Regions from separate parts of the Homo sapiens genome. Here regions 1 and 2 are each linked to region 3. Evidence: fine-mapped expression QTL. A gene starts in region 3. Each other region holds a variant in brackets. All regions are shown on one strand. Distances are from middle to middle.

What was found. PIP is the estimated chance that this variant, and not a neighbour inherited with it, causes the effect. A credible set is the group of variants that fine-mapping cannot tell apart.
Region 1: its variant is the best candidate, but not a certain one, in a credible set for the expression of LINC01269 in whole blood (TOPMed, PIP 0.86).
Region 2: its variant is the best candidate, but not a certain one, in a credible set for the expression of LINC01269 in whole blood (INTERVAL, PIP 0.62).

Annotation. Positions count from the first base shown.
Region 1 is chr14:70,669,817-70,677,669 of GRCh38, reverse strand. It overlaps TTC9 (tetratricopeptide repeat domain 9), which reads right to left. Exons shown (of 3, transcript NM_015351.2): 3 at 2,304-6,594. The coding sequence ends at 6,515. Among named protein-coding and RNA genes, the nearest start is that of LINC01269, 25 kb to the left of the region's middle. The variant A/G (reference allele first, on the strand shown) is at 3,416.
Region 2 is chr14:70,653,320-70,661,172 of GRCh38, reverse strand. All of the region lies in intron 1 of TTC9 (tetratricopeptide repeat domain 9), which reads right to left. Among named protein-coding and RNA genes, the nearest start is that of TTC9, 15 kb to the right of the region's middle. RefSeq lists enhancers at 6,433-6,492, 7,066-7,652 and a silencer at 6,553-6,692. The variant G/A (reference allele first, on the strand shown) is at 3,874.
Region 3 is chr14:70,694,869-70,702,721 of GRCh38, reverse strand. LINC01269 (long intergenic non-protein coding RNA 1269) reads right to left here and starts at 4,024. Exons shown (of 4, transcript NR_125769.1): 1 at 3,866-4,024; 2 at 2,522-2,727. RefSeq lists enhancers at 3,307-3,806, 3,807-4,308, 3,715-4,914.

The DNA.
Region 1 (7,853 bases), 25 kb after region 3:
TAGAGTGGGACTTTTCATGCTGACTTGGTAATTTGAACTATGCCACGCCTGATGGACTGAATGCATTTTCCCTGCCTCCACTGCCCGCCCTGGGCTGCTGTGGAGAGAGTGCTGGCATTGAGACCAGGGAGTGGGGCGTCTTAAAGCAGCTGCAGACCAGCTATTTGACCTCACAGCCAGTCTTGTCTTTCCTGCCCTGAGGCATGTGATGAGGATACCAAGGGCACTGGAAGGGGAGTGGGCAATGGCTGTTCTATTTCCCGGCAATTGCCGTCTCCTTGCAGCTCAGAGGCTGCTGGCCTCTGGGTGGACTGTTAGGAAGAAAACAGCGTTTATCGTTGGATGTGACTGGAAGACAGCTGATTCCGAGAACCATCAGAATTATTCCAACTGATTGCTGTGGAGTCTCTTTGAAGCCTGGAGAGGCATGGGTTGGAGTATGAAGCTTCCTCTGTCTTTCTACTCCCCACCTCCAAGTACTTGTCCTGCTTGAGCAGAGAGTAACCCAAGGGCCTCTTGGAAGGTTCCCTTCCTTCTACAGTGCAGAGAGGGGGAATGTGGAAGGTGAACGTGCAAGTATTAGCAGCCACACTATAAACAAGGAAACTGAGGCCAGGGAGGGTGGGGGAAGGAAATAAATGTTTTTTCTGTGCTTATTCTGTGCCAGCCACTGAGCTGGGAGATACTTATTTCTTAGTCCTCCCCACACCCTTTTAAGGGATAAAACATTTTCCCCCAGCCTGGCCAAATTGGTGAAAGCCTCTCTCTACTAAAAATACAAAAATTAGCTGGGCATGGTAGTGTGTGCCTGTAATCCCAGCTACTCGGGAGGCTGAGGCAGGAGAATTGCTTGAACCTGGGAGGCGGAGGTTGCGGTGAACGGAGACCGTGCCACCACACTCCACCCTGGGCGACAGAGCAAGACTCCATCTTGGAACACAAAACAAAACATTCTCCCCATGTATGGGCGAGGAAAATGAGGGTCAGAAAAGTTAAACAACTGCACCAGGGTCACACAGCTAGCAGATGTTAAAGCTGGTATTCAAACAAAACTCCGTCTATCCACTGTAAAATGTCACATGGTTTGAAATAGTGGAGCGGCGTGCTCTCAAGTTTGCTGGGCCTCAGCAGTGGCCCCTTAACCTGGCTGGTTACCTCATGGCATTCAAAAAACTATCCTGAACACTATTCCTGTGAATCTGATTCAATGGGTCTAAGGTAGAGCCTGAGATTATGTATTTTTAAAAAGCTCTTCCTAGTGATTCTGATATCTTGGAAAGCACAGGGCTGCAGCACGTGGCTTCTCTTCTGACCCAAGTCTCTTAGGAGATCTTCATTTCTCAGAAGCACAGATCTAGTTCAGCCCTGCATTTACCTCCAGTAACATTTGCCACTGAACCCATTATTCCTTCATTCCAGGCTGAATGCTCAACGTTTTCTGAGTACCTACAATGTGCCAGGCATGGTGCTCAACATTCTGGCTGCAAAGATGAATATACCACAGTGCCTGCCTTGAGGGACACCCAGGGCGTGCGGGAGATGAATGTAAACTAGAAACTCTAATTTGTTGTAGCAAAAGCTAGGCTGAGGTAGGCTTGTGTTGCTTTAAGAATTCAGACTAAAGGACCAAGGAAGGCTTTCTAGCAGTGATCCTGAATGAAGGCCTATAGGAGTTAGCAAGGTAGAGAGGACTGAAGGGCTAAGGAATAGCCGATGAGGCAGAGGGAAGGAATAGCGTGGAAAGGCCCAGAGACCCAGCACAATGGCTCAGGGCGGCAAAAGAAGCTGCACAGCAGTGGAATGTAGGATACTTTGGGAAGAGGACCAGGAAGTGAGGCTGGAAAGATCAGTGGAGACAAAATATGAAAGACCGTGTGTGTTGTTAAGGAGTTTGGACTTTATCCTAGAAGTGACGAGGCGCTACTAAAGATTTTATTTTTCCTGAGACAGAGTCTCACTCTGTTGCCCAGGCTGGAGTGGAGTGGCGTGATCTCGGCTCACTGCAACCTCTGATGCCCAGGTTCAAGTGATTCTCCTGCCTCAGCCTCCTGAGTAGCTGGGATTACAGGTGCCTGCCACCGCACCCAGCTGATTTTTTTGTGGGTGTGTATTTTAGAAGAGATGGGGTTTCACCATCTTGGCCAGGCTGGTCTTGAACTCCTGACCTTGTGATCCACCCACCTTGGCCTCCCAAAGTGCTGAAGTTGTGGAGTGACATGGTCAAACTGTGTTTTGGAAGGGTCACTCTGATAGAAATAAGAGAATGAACTGTAGGCAGGAGAAGCTGGCAACAGAGGAACGAATTAATTGCAGAATTAAGAATTTATGTATGTCAAAAAGCACCATAAACAAAATTTGAAAGCAAAGCACTTGGAAAGCATATTTGCAGCATTTCTTGACAAAAATAATATTCTTAATAAAATTACAAATTGATAATAAACATACCAATATCAAATAAATAGAAAATTCACAAAGAAAGAAGTACAAATGGTCAATAAGCATATGAAAATGTTATTCGCGAAGAATCAAAGAAAGTTAAAATAACATTGACATACTATTATCCCAGCTACCAAATTGGGAAAGATTTGATAAGTGATGATACCTAGTGTTAGGGTGCAGGAAACAGGGTACTCTCTAGGATCCAAATAGGAGAGCGTTTTGGTACAAACTTTCTGGAGGGTGGTTGGCAACATGTATCAAAATTCTTAAAAATAGCCAAGCAAGTCTCTTCTTGGAGTTTATCCTAAGGAAATCGTTATAGACATGTGCAAAATTTAGCTACAAGAATGTCAGTTGCAACACTATTTACAATGAAGATTGGGAACAAATGAAATAATCACTATTTGAGGATTGATGATAAAAAAAGGGTCCATCCATACAATGAAGATGCTGTTGAGAAAGTTTGATATGCCGAAAATGTTCGTGATATTATTAAGTGAAGGAACAGAAGGAGCAAAAAACAAAAAGTGTCCAATATGCTGCCATTTGTGTGTGATAAAAGAATATATACATATGTTTGACAATGTGTAAGCATCTCCACTAGGATGCAAAATAAATTAGAGGGAAACTAGATGCTGGCAGACGGGGTAGGGAGAAGATTTACTTCTGACTACAGAGCAGTTTGTACTTTTTGAATTTTGTATCTGTGTAGGATTACATATTCTAAAATATAAATACACACTTGAAAAGTTATTAAAGAGTATATTCAGTGTATCCAGTTTTTGTTTAAAAAAATCCACAACTGTGTGTGCGTGTGTACATTTACACCAAAAAGAACTAAAAGGTATATTCAAAAGAATACACGTTTGTCTTGGGTGGTAAGCTTATGGATTGGATTTTGTCCTTTTTTTCCTAAAACTTCTACAATACACACATGATGCTTTCACAATAATTAAAAAGCGTTAGTTTTTCCCCC[A/G]AAGAGTCCATCGCAAAAGTCCAGGCAGGGGATGACAGTGCAGGTCAGATGCCTGATTAGTACTCCAGCTACATAGGTCAGCAGTGACATCCGCAACGTACGGAATTAAATCACAGTTCTTGTTTTGGGGAGGGATGAGGAGAAGGAAGCTGAAGATTTGGTAGGGAGAATGAACCTGGTTTTGTGCTCTAAAGCCTTTGTTGGACAAATGCACAGAAAATTCAGCCCTATCACCCCAAACATCAACCAATACCCCAGGTAGCTTTTTCTCTTTGGGATTATTTAACTTCAGGTCACAGTGAATGGAGTTCCAGTAAGCCTGTATATCTAAGTCACCAAACAAGCAGATGACCTGGACGCTTGTTCTATGAGGTTCTGAGAGGCTGTCTTCATTTCGTTCTGGTTTTTGATCTTTCTACATGGGATGGCTACAATCATATCCTGGATTGTCCAGCCCTGCCCCAGCACACTCATGTAAACAAGACCTCTCTCCTGTCTCTGCATAGGGAATAATTACTCGGAGTCCTTCCTGACGCACAAAGACCAAGGGAAGACCCTGGCAGTTTGAACTCATTCTCCAGGTGACCTCTACCCTTCTCTTCATCCTTCAGATCCTAACAAACCATCTGCCAAATCACAAACGTTCTAAGTTGGAGGCTTGGGAATGGGGGTGGGGGTGGGGGTCGGGGCGTTTGAACACATTCCCGTGTGGGGCCATAGGGTAGTTTTGGGTTAGGGTCATGTAAAGCCAGCTAGGAGGAAGAGGAAAGACAGCATAATATAGTAGGGATTGGGGAGAATGTGGCAGCTGAAATAGCTTCTTCCTTTTCCTCTTCTCCAGAGAGTGAGCTCTAGGTGAGTAATGGCAGGCCCCTCAATATTTCTAGCACCTTCCTGTAGCCCCCGTTGAAAGCCTTTGGGGAACTATGTGAATATAACTTACGCTGCTCTCTTCTGGGCCCCTCGGCTGTGATTGGATCCTGCCGTGGTGGGGCATCTGCTTACATAATTAACCCATATTTAACTTTGTGTTTCCTTTCGGTCTTAATTGTGACCCTTTCCCAATGCTGGGGATGGGTGATGAATGCTAGGTGAGTTGTTGAGATACATGCTGGCTCCATCAGTAAGTAGAATGAGCAATACACAGACATAACTATTGGACCTCAGCTGCCTTTTTCTGACCTGTCACTGCTCTGACTACTAGGGATTCTGGCCTCTGGTCTTTTGGGGCCCTTGAGTAAATACATAAGGAGGCCATGTACTATCACTGACATCATGAACACTTTTCAGGTTAATACATATTGTCCTGTTCTCAAATGGTTATAATTGCCCAATATTATACTTACAGAGAGGCAACTAAGTATAGCATAGATACTAGCCAGAGCTCTGGAGTCAGGCAGGCCTGGTTCAAATCCTAGCTATGCCACTAAAGGCCATGCAACCTTGGGATAATTAATTTTTCTGGTTTTCAATATTCTTACCCATCAAATGGGAACAGTATCCCAGAGTAACTGCATGAAAGAAATGAGATTATACATGTAAAGATCTGAAGATAATGCATTTAATAAATCCTAACTATTCACATTATTGCATCTGTATATATTTTAATTTTGTACAACATTGTCTTTTTCACTAGTCACACGAAAAATACATGAAAGTGCTCTGATAATTTTAAAGCATCATATAAATTAACGGTGTCATTGGTAATAATCTCATATGCATTTCTTAACCCTTCCATTTCCTTGAAGACTGAGACGACATCCCATGTCCCACAGCATATTGCACAATGATGGGCAAACAATATGCCCTCAGTAAGTGTTTCTTGTTTGACTGAAGCAACATGGCATAGCATAACGAGCACAGACATCAGGAGACTAGGCTGGGATGAAATTAGTTTAAGGCAGGAGAGCCAGTCTGCAGTCATAATTTATTCATTCAACAAGCATTTGTTGAACACATTCTATGTGCTAGATGTTGAGTTCAGATAATTTCATCAAAAGAAGATTGTACAAGTTCTGACAAAGCCAAGCCCCTGGGCAGTCTCCACAATCCCAGCCCACTCTTAAAAGCACAAAGGCTGTAGCCACCATTGTCTGCCACTGGACAAACGGCCAATTGCTTTGGGGAAAGCCCCATCCTGCCTGGCTGTAAGTAGCTCTGATTGAGGGTTGGAGGAAGGAGTAAAAGTGAGGGAGTGGGCTGCTTCCAACAGAACTGACAGGAACTACTACCTGTTAATTTGTTTTTATTTACACTGAATCAGTCCACAGTTCAATCCCCTAGCCTATACGATGCTCTTTCCCCTGGCCATCATCTTTCCCTCCCTGTCACCTACACAGTCAACCTGTCCCAAACCTTGGCCCACTTCATCCTGCCCTTCTGCGGTCACAGCTGCCTGCTGGGTGGGAGTCCGGGGGAATGGTATGTGTGGTCACCAGAGGGCACTGAGTGGGCTTCAGTGGCATGTGAATCCTGGCAGAGTCTCGGATCCCCGATGGGGAGAGGAGAAAGCACAAGCCAAGACAACGAGTGGGGGAAGGAGGCAGGGGCTAAGTGACGGGTGGGGGGTGGGGGTGGGAACTCCAGTGTACACATTGACAGTCTCTATGTTGGCTTCACCAGCGCTTCTCTGTTTGTCTCGTCCCTGGATTTCTAACAGTTGCCTCGAGATGCTCTGGTTCTGGTCTGTCAGGAAAGTGTGGAAGGATCCAGCCCATGGGCTGTGTGCCTGCTGCCTGTGGGATGGTACACTTGCCAGGCTCCGCCTCTGTCAGAAGCACTGGCCAAAGTCAAAGCCACAACAGCATCCCAGCCCATGAGACTCCTCTCCAGCTGTCCCAGCAGAAGTCAGGCCCCTCTCAGTCGCTGACCTGCTAGAGGAGAGGATGTCTCCATTGTCTGGGCGACCTACCAGATTCCAAATTTGCATCTCTCCTTTTCGTACTGGGAGGAGACAAAGAGCTGGGGTGCAACAGGAGGAAAAATGAGGAGCCAGAAGAAGTGGGGAGAAAGGGACAGAATCCAGGACGGGGCTCTCTGCCAGGGGATGCCTGGAAGTCCCCGGTCAGGCGTGGGCGCAGCTCTGGAGCTGCTTCCTGGTTACATGGCTTCTTTTTCTCTCTGGGAGCATCGGCTGAGTTTCATCTCCGTCAGCTGGATATACCGAATCACGTTGGTGTCTGTGAGGAGAGAAATAAACCTTAGGGAACACCAGGTGAGGGCAACTATCACATTTACAAGGAATTAGCAAAGGCTGTGTCTGCAGACATCCAACAGGCCAGGCTCACTCAACCAAGGTCCCTTCTGCCTATCCATGGTGGCTGAGAGGGCAACTAGATGTCGACCCTCTCCTTCACTGTCTCCCCTTAGCAAATGTGGACAGGTTGGCATGACCCAGGGGATGTGAGAGAGAATGGGTGGGAGAGGAGAGAGAATTTCTCTCCCTCTTTCTATGCAGCAGCGTATCCCAGTGGTTTCCCAGCCGGCGCAGTTAGTTTAGTGAGACCCCAGTTGGAGTTTAACATCAGGCAAGTTGCCAACTTCTCTGAGCCTCCTGTACCATCTGCAAGAAACAACCTCTATTTTTTTTTGTTTGTTTGTTTTTTGAGATGGAGCCTTGTCCTGTTCGCCCAGGCTGGAGTGTAGTGGTGCAATCTTGGTTTGCTGCAAACTCCACCTCTCAAGTTCAAGCAATTCTCCTGCCTCAGTAGCTGGGATTACAGACACATCCCACTGCGCCCAGCTAATTCTTGTATTTTTAGTAGAGACGGGGTTTCATCATATTGGCCAGGCTCGTTTCAAACTCCTGACTTTAGGTGATCTGCCCACCTTGGCCTCCCAAAGTGCTGGGATCAGAGGCGTGAGTGAGCCACCGCGCCCAGCCAACAAGCTCCATTTTTGAATGCCAACCTTGTGCCAGGTTTCTAACCTTCATGATCTCATTTAATCCTCAATACAATCCCGCAAGGTATGTATCCTTCTCCTCACTGTGACAAAATGGAATAGGGACCTAGCGAGATTGAGTCAGATGCCAAGGAGACACATAGTAAATGGTGTGTCTGGCTGCAAAGCCTGTCTCTCCTGAGGACTGTAATACCTGCCTCATGAAATTGCTCTGAAGCCCAAAATAGGTAAGTCTAAAAGTGCTTAAAACAATGATCAACAAATATTAGTCTAATGTAATTTTTTTAAGCTTGAAGAGTTTAAAATGACTTTGCTTTATTGTCTTATTTTTGTCGTTATAAGCAGGGTCAGATGACCACCTCACCAAAACTGGGGCATTTCTTCCCAGTTCCTGTTATTAGTGAGGATGGCATGGCAGGGAACAACTGCTAAGTTCCACACACACCATAACATAAGAGTGACAGGGCTGCCTGGAATAGTTACTTCTGGAAGTAGAAATGAATACTATATCATGCTAAAAAATGCCAGGCGTATC
Region 2 (7,853 bases), 42 kb after region 3:
TAGGAAGACGGCTATCTACAAAGCCAGTGAGTGCCTGGGGCTACCAGAAGTTAGGAGAGAGGCTTGGAACAGATTCTTCCTCACAGCCCTCAGAGGGAACCAACCCTGCCGACACCTTGATGTTTCACTTCTAGCCTCTAGAATGACAAGACAATGAATTTCTGTTATTTTAAGTCACCCAGTGTGTGATATTACAGCAGCCTTAGGAAACTAATATACCTTGCTAGTCACTGCTTTGTGAGATGGGCCCAGGAAATGGCCATTGGGTTCCTAGGGGAAAATTTTCCCAAAAGTTTGCCAAATTATTTGATTTGCTTTCAAATTTATTTCAAGAAGCAATGACATAGTAGTAAAGTGGAAGAAGTTTGGGATCTGGACAGAGCTGATATTAAGAATATTGAATGACTGGTATAGATCATAACCAAACCAAATAGGCAAACAGTATTGTACCAGCTCTGGGTGCCCTGGCTGAAGACTAATGCTGGGTCTAGAGATGCAGTCTTGAGCTGGAATCTGAGCTCTGCCACTCACTAGCACAGGCCCGAGGGCGAGTTATATGATCACCCTGGGTCTTATTCTTCCCATGTTAAATAGGAACTTTGGGGGAACGCTTATGATGATGAAATGAGATAATTAATGCACATTACATGCTTCTCACAGTGCTGGGACAAAAATGGATTCTCATAAATACTAGTTCTTTAGAAAGTCACTTATCAAATATGGTTTGCCCAGCAATGTGTACATGAATTGGAGAAAATTTCCATCTTGAGTCCTATATACAATATGTGGTACATAAACAAAGCTACAGCGTAATTTAAAGTAGATTTTCTATCTAAAGTAGATTTTCACCCACTACCCACAAGGGCAGACAGGTATCAGATGGCCAAGTCCTAGAGCTGGAAATCTGCACATGTGTGCAAATAATTGTTCTCTGTTACGCTGTCAACTTGTGACATTTGGATACTTCTCTTGTTAGTGATTTGAAATATTCCCCTGGAGAATAAGAACCCCGGCCAAGGAGATGGGGAAAAGGAGCAGAAGGATGAGGTGCTGCATGATGCACTCAAGAGAATATGGCCCTGCACCAGTGGACAGTATCCATCCATCCTCCCAGAAAGGGAATAAGAGGAAGAGCAGGTCATCTTTATTTAGCATGAATGGGCCAGGCACTGCTCTGAGCATTAACTCATTTAATCTTGACAGCAATCTATTCTAGCTTCTAGTATTTTGCCCATTTTTTTCAGATAGGAAAATGGAGGCCCTAGGAAGTCAAGTCACTTGCCCAAAGTCACAATGCTAGTAAGTGTCAGAGCCAGGATTTGAATTTAGGTCATCTGGCACCTGAGACTGTGCTTTTAACCATCACACACACTGCCCTCCTAGGATGCTTACCTGCCTGTAATGATTCTAACTCAATTCCTTCATTAGACATATTTGAGGCATGGGTACTGCTTCCTGTAGGGCTTAAGTGTGAGACCCTAATTGTGCTAAACTGTTCTCACTTTATACGTAAATACTCATCCGGAAACTTCCTATGTAACCCTCCAGAACCTTCTCTCCCACTAGTTCCTTTACATTCAGAGAGAAAAACAAAAAACAAGCAAACAAAACCAACTGCAAAGTTTCCCCTCCTCCTGCTGCGGCTGCTTTTTTTCCTAAGTTCTAAAACCACCAGCATCTCCAATTCCATTCAGAGTCTACTGTTATCCTAACAGGGCTGACATGACACGTTTCTGGTTTCTTCCTGAAACAACACCTATCTTTGCTTAGCTAGTGCTTGCAAAACTAACCCCCCAATTATTATTTTTTACTTGAAACTTTTATTGTGATAATTGTAGATTCACCTACCGTTGTAAGAAATACTACAAAGAGACCTCCCATACCCTTTACCCATTTTCCCTTAGCGCTAATATCTTGTAAAATGATAGTACAACATATTGGCTATGATATTGACACTGATAGAATCCACAGATCTTATTCAGGTTTCCCTAGCTTTACTTGTACCCAGTATGTGTGTGTGTGTGTGTGTGTGTGTGTGTGCGTGTGTGTGTGTTTAGTTATATACAGTTTTATCGTGTGTAGGTTCCTCTATCATCTCCTTCCTGTCCCACCACTTCCTCTTTAACCCCTGACAACTGCTAACCTGTTCTCTATTTTTAAAATTTTGTCATTTTGAAAATATTATATAAATGGAATCACATAGCATGAAATCCTTTGGAAGGCGCTTTTTACACTCAGCATAATTTCCTTGCAATGCATCCAAGTTGTTAAATGCACCAATAGTTCATCCTTTTTTAATTGCTCTGTAGTATTGCATGGTATGGATGTACTACAGTTTGTTTACCCATTCATCTGCTGAAAGATATCTGCGCTGTTTCCAGTATTTGATTATTACGAATAAAGTTGATAGGAATAGTCAGGTATAGCTTTTATTTCTCTAAGATAAGAGCTCAAGAGTGCAATTCCTGGATCATAAGAGAAAGAATTTCATTTCTTGTCATCAACTATGATGTTGGCTTCAGTTTTTTTTTGCAGATGCTTTTAACTGAGATCAGGCAATTTTGCTCTATTTCTAACTTGCTAAGAAATTATTATTTTTTAAATATCTGTGAAATTATAGCACATCCTTGCCTAATGGTAATGCTTTGCAGAACCTGTTAGGGGGTCTCTCTAATGAGTCAGATCTACAGGTACAATCATCAAATGTGCCCTTTAGTTTTACAAAGAATAAAATTATTTTTCATAGCTACATTCTCAAATCAGGATCATTACTGTTCTTTATGAAATGCGTCTCCCTTGCTCTTTCAGACAAACATCTCTAGAACATCTTTAAATTCTCACACAGCACCTACCACAGTGGTTATGCCCAACTGGCAGCAAGACCTAACATATATACGGTGTTTTACAACTCATTTAACTTTCATGGAGACTCCGGGAAATAGCTATTATTAGCTCTGCTTCCAGGAGCTGAGGCTTGGGGAAGTTAAGTGACCCGCTGAGCCCACTTAGCTCTTATGGGGAAAGAGCTAGTGTTTACTTAACCCCAAATCCCATATTGGTTCCAATCCAACAGAGCTGGTGGTAATGGTGGAAACCCGGACTGGCTGATCTCTGAAGGTCTTTATCAAGTCTGAGGACTGAGAACTCTGGCTCAGAGAGTTAGCACCCTCCAAGTGGCTGTTTCTTTGTTTGTTTGTTTGTTTGTTTGAGATGGAGTCTCGCTCTGTCGCCCAAGCTGGAGTGCAGTGGCACTATCTCAGCTCACTGCAACCTCTGCCTCCTGGGTTCAAGCAATTCTCCTGCCTCAGCCTCCCAAGTAGCTGGGATTACAGGTGCCTGCCACCAGGTCTGGCTAATTTTTGTATTTTTAGTAGAGATGGGGTTTCACCATGTTACCCAGGCTGGTCTTGAACTCCTGACCTCAGGTGATCTGCCCGCCTCGGCCTCCCAAAGCACTGGGATTACAGGTGTGAGCCACCGTGTCTGGCCCACAAGTAGCCGTTTCTTTGTTCACTCCAATACCTATTTCTCCTGCCTGCTGCCCAGAGAGTCTCCCACTACTGCTGCTGCTATTTCTACTGCCAGGAGCTGTTTGGCTTTATCTAGGGGGCTAAATCTCCTTTGATTCCATTCACATTAATTTCTGACCTTCCACTTTTCCATTCTAGTATGTGCTTGCACTAGATTCAAACAAACACTGTCAAGTGTGTCTTTTGTTTTCTTTGTTTTAGCAACACTGTCTTTGGAGATCTCTCCTTTTCATCATAACCAAGCTGCTCCCTTGAATCCCTCTGATTCTTCACATGGATGCCCCACCTTTGGGATCACTACCAGAGCTGCTGCTTCCCACGCATCATCACTACACAATTTCGG[G/A]TAGGCACTCTTAGTAAACTTAGTCAATAAGGATTCACTCATCGTGGCCTGTGCCCAGGGCTTCATAAGGAATATGGAAAGCATTCAAGAGATATTGATATCTTCAAGGAGTTTATATTCTTTTTAATTACCCTCTGTTGGCAAAAATAGCTGTCAAAGTGGCAGGTAAAAGAACTGCATGGAAAGTCAGTATAAAATCCTGTAAGCTGAAAGCTTACATTGACAGTCCTTTAAAGCATATAGGAATCTGCCCAAGGGAGTTGTAATGCCAAAGCTTAAGGTCAGCTCAGCCCTTTGGCACCAATCTGGGTGCTATGGCAGAACACTTAGAAGTTATCCCACCTATGGCCCCTTACTCTCACCCTTGACTTTGGTGTAGTAGACAGAGAGGGAGAAGGCAGTAGTGAAAAGTTGGTAGGACAGAGCTGTTGTTTGCTGGAATCTTCATTAACACCCCTTCCTCAGTCTGGAAGCGGGACTTTGGAGTGGCCAGATTGGCCATTTGGAATGTGAAGATGAGTGTATTCCCAGAAATATTCAGAAGAAACCCATCGCCCCATATTATCTTTTCCTTCTCAGCTCTGGCCAAGTACACACGTCACGTTCATTGGCAGAAACTCTAAGCCAGAATGGGAAGACCTTAGAAGCCAGAGTTCTATCCTGTTCTCTTTTTGGACATTAAAGAACGTCTCCCATTTCAATCCCCTCTCCTGCCCCAGAGACATGTTCCCTGTTCCTATTGCCTCTCCCACCATCTTTCCCTCATGTCCTCAGATGTGTTTGGGGATAGGATAATTAACAGGCACATGTATAGCGGAAAGAGCACGTCTTTGGCAGCATTGTGCTGTAATCACAGAATGCTGGAAATAACCTAAGTATCCATCAGTAGATTAGTTAAATAAATAATGGGACATTGGTGCAATGGAACATTACACAGCCATTACAATCATGCTGTGGAACGGTGAAAAATATTTTCAATGAAAACACTGGTGGAAAAACATGAAGGTTGCTAAAGTTTGTACAGTATAAACCTGAATGTTGTGAAAAATAAATGTGTGTGTGTGTGTGTGTGTGTGTGTGTGTGTGTGTATCAGGGTGAAGAATTATTTTTTCTTTTAAAAGTTCTGCTCCTTCTGTATGGGTGAAGAATTTGTAATATCTATAGCAGAGTTTAAAGGAATAAATTATCTTTTTGGAGGAGACTGGCTTCATCAACTGCTTCAGGTGGGGAAGGTGAAGCTTAGAGGTCAGTAGCAGGCACACACGTAGATGAAAAGATGCCCAGACTGCTTTGTATATGAAATGAAGGGAATCTGAGAGTGGGGAAACCTAAGAAGCTGAGAGGAGCTGGCGGGGAGAAAGAGTCCAAGCAGCATGGCGGGGAGCTGGAACCTGCCAAAAAATGTGAGTGGTCCATTTGAAATTCCTGGTGGTCTGATGGCCAAATGAGTTTTAGGAGGAAGAATTTCTACTATTCAATTTTTGAGATGTAAACTCCTTCTGCATCTCATAACCTTCAGTAAAGTCTAGTGAAATTATACATCTGGGTGTAGTGGTGCTGTGGAATGTGAAAAGGAAGTAGCAGCAACAGGAAGTCGAGTGGCCCCTTGGTTGTCATGCAAACAGAGTGAGCAGCATCCTGTGGGAGGGGAGGGGAGAAAAGACAGGAGGTCCCTGCAGTGGCCCCAGCCCACGTGAGAACAACCCCTTGTTTCCTAAATACACTGGGAAAGGTAGACCTGAAGGGGGTTGGCTGATGTTTGTTTTACATATAAATGATCATACACCCACACGGAAGAAAAACGGCAAGGAAATAAACCAAAACGGTTAACTGTTGTCATCTTGGGGTGGTAAATGACAGAGTTTTACCTTCTTCTTTGTTTTTTTTTTTTTGTTTCTTGAGATGGAGTCTCGCTCTGTCGCCCAAGCGACGCTTGGAGAGCAGTGGCGCGATCTCGGCTCACTGCAACCTCCGCCTCCCAGGTTCAGGCGAGTCTCCTGCCTCAGCCTCCCGAGTAGCTAGGACTACAGGTGCACGCCACTGCGCCTGGCTAATTTTTGTATTTTTAGTAGAGACAGGGTTTCCCCATGTTGGCCAGGCTGTTCTCAAACACCCAACCTCAGGTGATCCACCCACCTCGGCCTCCCAAAGTGCTGGGATTACAGGCGGGAGCCACTGAGCCTGGGCTGCTTCTTTGTAATTTCTTATATTTTCAATGCTAAATTAAATTTAGCCTAAAGCTGCCTCCTTACATAGTCTAAGTTTGGCCTAAAGGTTTCTTTGTACATAAGGAACCATAGTAAACTGAAAACTAGCTGGATGTGTAAACAGTCTGCAACCTACTCTTATGCCAATCAACTGAGTTTTAGCCAATCAAAGGCAACCAAGTGTTCAAACTGAGTTCAAATAAGGCAAATGCAGAGCTGTTAAGTATCAGCTGTTTCTGTACCTCGCTTCCATTTTTTTGTACGGTGGCTTTCCTTTTTCTGTTTCGTAAATCTTCTTCCACCATGTGGCTGCACTGAAGTCTCTCTGAGCCTATTCGGGCTTGGGAGGCTGCCCGATTCACGAGTCATTCTTTGCTCAATTAAACTCTGCTAAATTTAATTTGTCTGAGGTTTTTCTTTTAGTATCAATAACTTCTGCAACTATGATGCTTTACTTTTGTAATTAGAATTTTTTTTTTTTTTTTTTTTTTTTTTTTTTTTTTTGAGACAGAGCCTTACTGTTGCCCAGGCTGGAGTGCAGTAGTGCAATCTCGGCTCACTGCAACCTCCGCCCCCAGGTTCAAGCAACTCTTCTGCCTCAGCCTCCTGAGTAGCTGGGACTACAAGCATATACCGCCACGCCCGGCTAATTTTTGTATTTTTAGTAGAGACAGGGTTTCACCATGTTGGCCAGGCTGGTCTCAAACTCCTGACCTCAGGTGGTTCACCCACTTTGGCCTCCCAAACTGCTGGGATTACAGGCATAAGCCACCACTCCCGGGCAGAAACTATTTTTAAAAAGTCACCACTAACCATTATCATCCCTTCAGAGAGAGCTGGGGGATGAGGGGAAGAGGAACTTGGGAGGAGAGGTGTGAAAAGGGATTCAGAAGGGTTTCCTAGGCAGAAAGCACTGCCTCTTCATGGGGCACTGTTCTGGGGATGCTTAGGGTCATGAGGGACCCTGGGTGTTTTGGTGGAGGAGCAGCTGTGAGCGGATCCAAGGGACACACCTGCTAGTGCTCTCACTCCCAAGATGCCTGATTAAGCCAAGGACTTTCTTCATCCTACCCCAATAAGGAAGCTCAGTAAGCTGGCATCTGCCTGATGCACAAGAGGGTGGGTGGGGCAGTCCCGAGGCTGCCAGCCCCATGGCTTCTCTGTCGGATGTCTCCTTCTATGAGCCTCTGCCATCCTCTGTTTCTCTTCCCACCAGAAAGCCTTCTTTCTTGTTAAGCTCCCCTGGGGACTCAAATGATCACAGCATGTATCTTCTCTTCCCAGCAGGCAAATCCTTATTTTCCGCTGTCAGATTCTCAACTGGTCTGACTTGTGAGAGTGCCTGAAGTTCTTTCCCTGCTTTTCATTTCAAAGACAGGGTCAGGGGGAATCCTGGGGCAAAGTGTGAAAAGTGGCAGGGAACAGGCACTGTCTAACTGAGCCTTATTCATTTGGAGAATCTCAGGCTGGAGATGATGTGTGCCTAGAACCCACAGTTTCTAAGTGTTTCTTAGACTGACCCAAATCCTGAGAAGCTGGAAGGGGCATAGACCCCTGACCCATGGGCTCTTGGTCATGGTGGAACTCTGTGGTCTTTCAACTAACTGATGAGTTATATGTTCACTCAGCCTCCCTTGACCAGGAATACACCAGGCATGGTGGTAGACAATGTCCACACCAAAGGCTGTTGGCTTATACCTTCTCACCTCTCCTGTCTTGCAGACACTTAGGGAGATGGCACTCTTTCCCCTGGCCCCTGTTTTGTCCTCACC
Region 3 (7,853 bases):
TTTTGTTCCTTATAATAACAAGTAAATGGCTATTCTAATATATCTAGGATGGGGCTAAACCATGGTAGAATCTCCGGTTTGTACTGTACACAATGGGCCCCATCCCATTGTGCTATTATCATGTGCTAGGTATTGTGTTAGGTCTGTGTTACATATTAGAATTATTTTATCTAATTCTCCCAATGGCTCTGTAAGGTAGGCATTATTAGCCCTGTGTTAATGTTGAGGAAACTAGGCTTCAGAGAAGTTATGTCATTTACCCAAAGGAGCTCTGTCAGTAGGTGACAGAGTCAGGAGTTGAATCTAGGTCAGTGGTTCTTAACCAGAGGCAACTTTGTCACCCAGGAGACATGTGGCACTGTTGAGAAATTTTTGGTTGTCACAAGTAGGAGTGGGGAGGGATGCACTCAAGGGTAGCAGGAATGCTGCTGAACATGTAAATATGCACAGGACAGGTCTCACAGTGAGGAATTATCTGGCCCCAAATATCAACTGTGCCGAGGCTGAGAACCCTTGAGGACCCGTCTATGAAAAACTCGGGCTCCTTCCATTACACCAAATTGGGAAATGGAAGTTAAAGAGGGAGTTATGAAAAATAATAGAGAATAATGTCGTGAAAATAATATTTTAGGAAGCTAAACCTGGAGTGGTGAGAGGAATGAGCTGGAGATGGGAGAAACTGAAGCTAAGAAGACTATTATTGGAAGCCACAGACTGGTCCAGGTGAGAGGCAGGAAGGACCTGGAGGGGTGGATGGCTGAGGTCCATAAAGGGAAGACAAGTTAAGTGCCAGTGGCAAGAACTTGACTGACAGCAGGTAGAGGATGCCAGAGGCAGGGAGAAGTGAAGGCAGACAAGGCAGTGGTGATTTCTCTTCTCCATGTGCATCCCCTCTTCCTCCCCTTCCTCCTCCTCCCCTTCCTCCTCCTCCCCTTCCTCCTCCTCTTCCTCCTCCTCCTCTTCCTCCTCCTCCTCTTCCTCCTCCTTCCTCTTTCTTCTCACCCCCCTCCTCTTCCTCCTTTCCCCTCTTCCTCTTGTTCCTCCTTCTCCTCCTCATCCCCTCCTCCTCCACTTCTTCCTCCTTTTCCCCCCATCCCTCCCTCTTCCCCCTCTTTTCCCTACAGCTCCCTGCCCCATTGGCATCTGCTTCTATCTTCCTTCTCGCTAACCCCTTTGTCTAATGGGCATGCTCTGTTTTCCGCTGACCCCTAGTTCTAGGCCATGGGTCCCAACCCCAGCAAATGCATGGAAAAATCTTGGTTTCCTCAGCTTTGTTCACTGTGACAAGAAAGAGTGAGCTCCCACAGTGACAGCAACAGACTCTGACACATCTTTTCAATCTTACTTCTCTTTCCATTTCCTTTAAAACTTTTGGCCTTAAAAACTTTGACCAGTGTGTAGGATTGTTATAGAGACAGACAAGTGGTCCAGGAAAGAAACTCAGGGAATTTCCGACATGAGGGAAGAGGAAGGAAATCCTTTGTCTCACATTTGTTGTTTCCTTTGGAGTGTTTTCCAAAGGACACTGGCCTGTTGACAAGGCATCCCAAGGGCTTTGGGGCTGGCCCTTCCTTTTCCTTGTCCCTGGTCTATGTCTGTCCTTGTAGCCTGGTGCCTGCTTCAGGGCTGGGAGCTGGGGTTGCCAGATGTGCTCTGAACCCTGCTGGCAGAAGCACTTGTGTTTGGCCTCTGTCTCTGCTTCCCTGCCCTTCTCTTCCCCAGGTCCTCGGTAGCCCTGTTGAAAGGCCAGTGGCTTCTCATGCTTTCAGAAAAATTTAGACAATAAAGAGGCTGCAATGATGAGCTGATTGCTTTCAGGCTGACAGCTAAAGTCTGTGTCGGCACTGAGTCAACCATCAAGAGGGAAGGTGAGCACCTTCCAGCTAATGCTGGGTTCCCAGCTCCTCCCATTGGCTTGTGAGACGTGCTATGTCCATTTTGTCTCTTCTCTCCCTTCAGCCTGTGTGCATTCCTCTCCTCTGGGCCCACTGCTCACCTGCTCTCATTCTGTTCTTTAGTATTCTGTTCTCTCTCTCATCCCACACTATCTTCAAAGAGAGCCAGGCCTTGGAGAACGGAGGGAAGTCCAAGTTCCCCTTTGGCTTCTGACTCCCAGTGTCCCCTTTCTGTGCCCTTTGCTCACCCTCTTTCCAGGATCTGCCTCCTCCATGCTTCTCCACCCATAGCATCACTGCCTATTCCTAGGAAGGATTTGGATACCAGTCATGTGTATCTTCAGCAGCCTCATGGCATGATGTTTTGGAACACACATGCACTTGGGAACTTAGTAGCTTGGGTTGAAATCTGGGCCCTGTTCCTTACATGCAACTTTGAATATGTTAACAAAAGTCTCCATGGGCAAGTTTCCTCAATCTGTAAATTGGGGCTAACAGTATATATCATGTGATTGTGAGGATTAAATGAGTAATGTATGTAAATACTTTGGACAGTGCCTGGCACTTGAGGAGTTTTATAAAAATTAGGTATTACTACCATATGAATACAAATGAATGTGCTGTACCTCAATAAGGAGATCGGTGAGTAGGAGAGGCCCCCTTCCGTGCCATGGCAAGCTCAATCAAGGGCCACCATGGGGTGACCAGGCTGTGGGAATGGCCAGATCCATGCGTGCTGCCATCAGCATGGCCAGGTGAACGTTGGTGATGACCAGAAAAGGCTGAGCCAAATGCTCAAATCAGCACAGTGGGCTTGAGACTTTGGGAGCCACTGTGGAGAAGAAGAGCACAGTTGAGATAGGGAATGGAAGGTAGGTTCTGCACAGGCAGGCGTGATGTCATTCCTCCTGTCACTGGGCTGCAGGGTGAGCATCAAGCCAGCCATGCAGGAGAACAGAAAGTGCACCCTGCTGTAGAGGGGTGTGGGGGTGTGTGCATGGCCAAATAGAAGACGTGTTGCTTCCCTAGGAACCTGCTAGCGGACTGGTAGGAGGGACCGCAGTGTGTGAAGCACTGATTGCCAATAAAAACCATTTCGTTGTCACCTCCCTCCATATCCTGTGCCCTTGTTCTGGTCCTCAATGCAATTCATAGGCTTTTCTTTCCCCTCCCAGGAAAGGTCCCTGGGCAAAGCCTGTGACCACAGCCACACCTGTAGGTGTGTGAATTACCGTCTTCTATGTGTCTTCTTTGCTTTCTCTAAAAGGGAGGGATGGAAAGCTTTTCTTTTTAATTTTTATTTTTTTGACAGGGACTCACTCTGTCTCCTAGACTGGAGTGCAGTGGTGTCATCATAGCTCACTGCAGTCTCTGCCTCCTGGCTCAAACGATCCTCACACCTCAGCCTCCTAAGTAGTTGGCACTGATAGGTACATGACTGCCATGCCCAGCTTTTTTTTTTTTTTTGTAGAGATGAGGTTTCTCCATGTTGCCCAGGCTAGTTCTGACTTTTATGAAAGACACAGTATCATTACCCAGCAGGATGACAGATGTTAGAGATCCAGGACCTCCTCCTGGTGCTCCCTGGCTCAGTGGTGGGGCTATCTTCCCAAGGGAGAAGTGGCAGATGGCACACAGGGTTCCCCCGCTCAAGGCTTTTGGGGCACCGTTCATCCTGGGGCATCACTCACATCTGCAGTCCCAGGAGTTGCACAGGGTGCAGATTTGCCCGGGGACCCCAGCCTCAATTGGGCTCAAAGGGACTCTGCCTCAGGATCCCTTCCTCCCTGTTCTTGGCTGTCTTTTGTGAAGAGCTGTGGGTGGGGGAAGGTGACCGTGGGGACTGAGAGCAATCAAATTGAAATGCAGGGCTAAGAGAAGCCATTGCTTTGGGCAGAAAGAGAAAATTCATGGCAGAGGGAAGAGCAGGTCCCAAGCTTCCCCACCACCCCCCATGTCCCCGCTCTCACCTCAAGCTTCAGAGGGCAGGATCCTGCCTTGGAGATGATGTACCAACACAGCTACCTCCCCACCAGTTCATTAGGAAGACAAATGCCTGAGCCAAATTCCTTAGGATTTGCCAAGAACCAATTCCTTAGGATTCTTTTTCTGGCAACTTCCATAGCATTGCCAAGCTAATGGAGGGATCCCAGGGATATATCTGATGCCTGGAGCAACAGGAAATGCGGGAGCCCACAAGACGATCAGTCAGGTGTGTGCACCTAGCACAGTGGCAATGCCCAGTGTCCTGATACAGACCTTTGTAGTTCCCTTGGGCTCAGGAGGAACCATAATGCCAAATGACACAGTCACATGGAAGGGCAGGGCTGCAGCCACAGTGACTCAGCAGGAAAAGAGTTAGTTCCCCAGAAGGATCTAGCTTGAGGAATATCTGAGGCCAGAGTGTAGCGGTTGGTCTGTTTGCTTTTACATTCTGCAACCCATTTATTGATAAAACTGTTGTGTTTTTCAATGTTAAGTAAAATGCTATGCAAAAGTATCCTCAAGCCAAGTCCCCTAGCTCCAGGGGTGATTATCAAAATAATGCCAGAAATTAATGTTTTTATGCAAGGATGTCGAGGAGGTCCTGGAGTCCAGGGGAAGGGGCCTTGGGTGGTTCAGGGTAGTGCCATTTACCAGCCTGGAGGAAAAGCAGTTTAATATTTTCAACAACCTATATTGATACACATGTGTTGGCTGAATGTCAGCCCTGCCTAGCCCTCACCTCAAACTGACCCTCACCTCAAACTGAAGCTTTATTGCATAAGCATTGTGGTACTTACTCTTGCCTGAATATTGAAGAAACCCCATTCCTCATCTCCAAATCCCTCATATGGCTGTTTCTCCAATGTGAGTTTCAGAAGACTCTGAAGTGTGAGAAATCTCTCTGCTTTGACCAGTCTTTTGGGCAAGGCCTCATGTGTCAATAAGGGTGTGTCTCCTTCCTTTCCAGCTCAGTCCCAACTATTTTCTTTCATATAACACGTACTGTCCAGTGGAACTTCTTGCTCTTTCTTTTCACACACACCCTAAGCATTCATGTCTGTAAGCCTTTGCTCCTGCAGTTTCCTCTACCCGGGTGCCTTTTTCTCTTCTCTCCTTGTGTCCAACTCATGGTCATCCTTTAAGGCCTTTGCAAATGCCACCTTTTCCAGGAAAGTCTCCAACTATTCCTCTCTTCATAAATGATCTCTCTCTGTCCTGTGACATCTTAAAACAATTTTTTAAAACTTCAGTATGGCACTTTAGAATTTTGTCATCATCATTACTGACATCATCAACATCATCATTATTTGGCTGGATTCATTGAGAATCTACTATGCGCCATGAAAATATTCTGTGCTCTACAGTCTCATTTGCTTTTCTGTCTTGTAAAAATAATTATGTATGTATGTATGCATGTTTTCTTCCTTTCTAGCATACAGTAATAAAGCAAATGGAATTTGGAATCAGATTTGGGTTTGGACCCGAGTTCCATTATTTGGTTGTAGGACTTTAGGCAAATTACTCAGGCTTCCTAAACTTCAGCTTTCTTGTTGGTAAAACACTGATAATAACACTTACCTCATAAAGGGTAATTGTATTACATCAAATAATAATAATAATTGCCAGCATTTGTTCAGTGCATATTATATGCTGGGCAGTGCTCCAAGTACCAATTCTGTATTATTTAATAATTTAAATCCTCACAGTAACCCTATGAAATAACTAATAGTACCCTTACTGTACGGAGGGAGAATCTAAGGCAAAGAAGCCAGTCAGTGGAAAGCTAGAATAAGAATTTTGACTTTAGAATCCTCACTTTTTTTTTTTTTTTTAACTGAGTCTCACTCTATTGCCCAGGCTGGAGTGCAGTGGCACTACCTCAGCTCACTGCAACCTCTGCCTCCCAGGTTCAAGCAATTCTCCTGCCTCAGCCTCCCGAGTAGCTGGGACTACAGGCACCCGCCACCATGCCTGGCTAATTTTTGTAGAGATGGGGTTTCACCATTTGGCCAGGCTGGTCTCAAACTCCTGACCTCAAGTGATCTGCCCACCTCGGCTTCCCAAAGTGCTGGAATTAGAGGCGTGAGCCACCACGCCTGGCCAGAATCCTCCCTTTTAATCATTACCAACAAATGCCTCTGTAGGGTGGATGATACCTGGCCTGGGCTGGATATTGTCTGGACGGTACGTAGCCCAGTATCTGGCAAGTATTTCAAAATTGGCAGCTGTAATTCTTATTCCCATTCTTACTGCTCAGGGCTGGGGTCTATCCTGTGCATCTCTGTTTCTCCACAGCACCTCATAACACTAAGAGCTTGCATTTGTTTAGCATTTTCCATGTGCCAGGGACTGTGCTAAGCCTCTAGCCCTAGCAAATGAATAAATGAGTGATTGAATAAATGAATGAATGAAAAGATTAGACAAAAGCTCTTGAACAGTGGGCAAAGACTATCTGAAAAGAGGATTCATCCCTTCCAGTTTACTTGCCAGGCAAAAAGATGAAGGGATGGAGGAGAGGCCTCCCAGGGACCTGAATAACTCCCAGTATTCATCAGTATTTTCATTAACGACTTGAAAGATGGAGTGCAGAGTATGCTAATCAAATTGGTGAAGCCTGCGAGGCAGAATAGAAGCTGAGCACTTATGAGGGAAGCTGGAGCTTGCAGACAGTACTTGACAAATTGGAGAAATAAACAGAGTTAATAAACAGAGCTTCAGGAGCTGCAGACTTCAAGTGGCTCCAAGGGATCAGCTGTCACTAATGGATTTGCCCAGAGAGATCTTTGACCCTCTTTTCCTTGGTCTTTGCCTGGCTTGACTGCATCTTTGGAGCAAGCCTGCCTGAGGGGTACACAGTTTCCTTGATGAGGGGACTTATTTGGGCCTGGAAGCCTGATGGGCAAAGTCCCCACTTCAAAAGCTAAGCTGTCCCCACACTTCTTCCTGGCCTGTGACTTGCTCACCTAACCCATCTGCCTGGCTGTGTCTCCATGGAGAGAAGGGGCTGGCTCCACCTGCTCCCCAAAAGAATCAAGACTCAGTAAAACCATAAACTGACCCCACATTGCCTGATCCCTACCCACCAAAATGGTGCTGCCCTTCTCTACTTCCTATACATTCCTGTCGTCAACTTCTTTTCCCATTTGAGGCTGCCCTGGAGGTGATTCTGACCTTGGCTTTTCTTGGGAAAATGTACTGGCGTGAAAGGAGGGGAAATGAGACAGTGCGATCTGCTGGGGAAGCTCCACCTCTGCCCTGCCAACCTCTAGGAAGAAGACAAAGTCTGAGTGGTTTGGCAGTTATAGGAATGTGCAGGCGTTAGAGTCCCAGCTTCATCCTTCTTAAGTTACGTGGTGTTAGGTAAGTTTTTTTAGCTTCTCTGAGTCAAGCTCTTTTGGTTACAAACAATTGAAAGACACTTGGTTTATCTTTTTTTTTTTTTTTTTTTTTTTTGAGACGGAGTCTCGTTCTGTCGCCCAGGCTGGAGTGCAATGGCGCAATCTTGGCTCACTGCAGCCTCTGCCTCCTGGGTTCAAGCAATTCTCCTGCCTCAGCCTCCCGAGTAGCTGGAACTACAGGTGTGCACCGCCACATCTGGCTAATTTTTTGTATTTTTTGTAGAGACGGGGTTTCACCACGTTGGGCAGGATGGTCTTGATCTCCTGACCTTGTGATCCGCCCATCTCGGCCTCCCAAAGTGCTGGGATTACAGGTGTAAGCCACCTCACCCGGCCTTCTTCTTTCTTGATTGGCCTCAGGGTGCCTATGACCAGACACTGATGTTCCAGTCCCACCTTTATGAAGAGGCTAACAGGGAGGACAAATATCTCTGTATCCAAATCCATATTTCTGGGAAAATGATACTGACTGGCCCCACTAGAATCAGGTTTCTACATTGGCCCAATCAGTCAGGGCTGGCCTGAGGAGTGGAGGGTGGTGTTGCTGGGTACCAACAGGCCAGCAAGGGCCCAT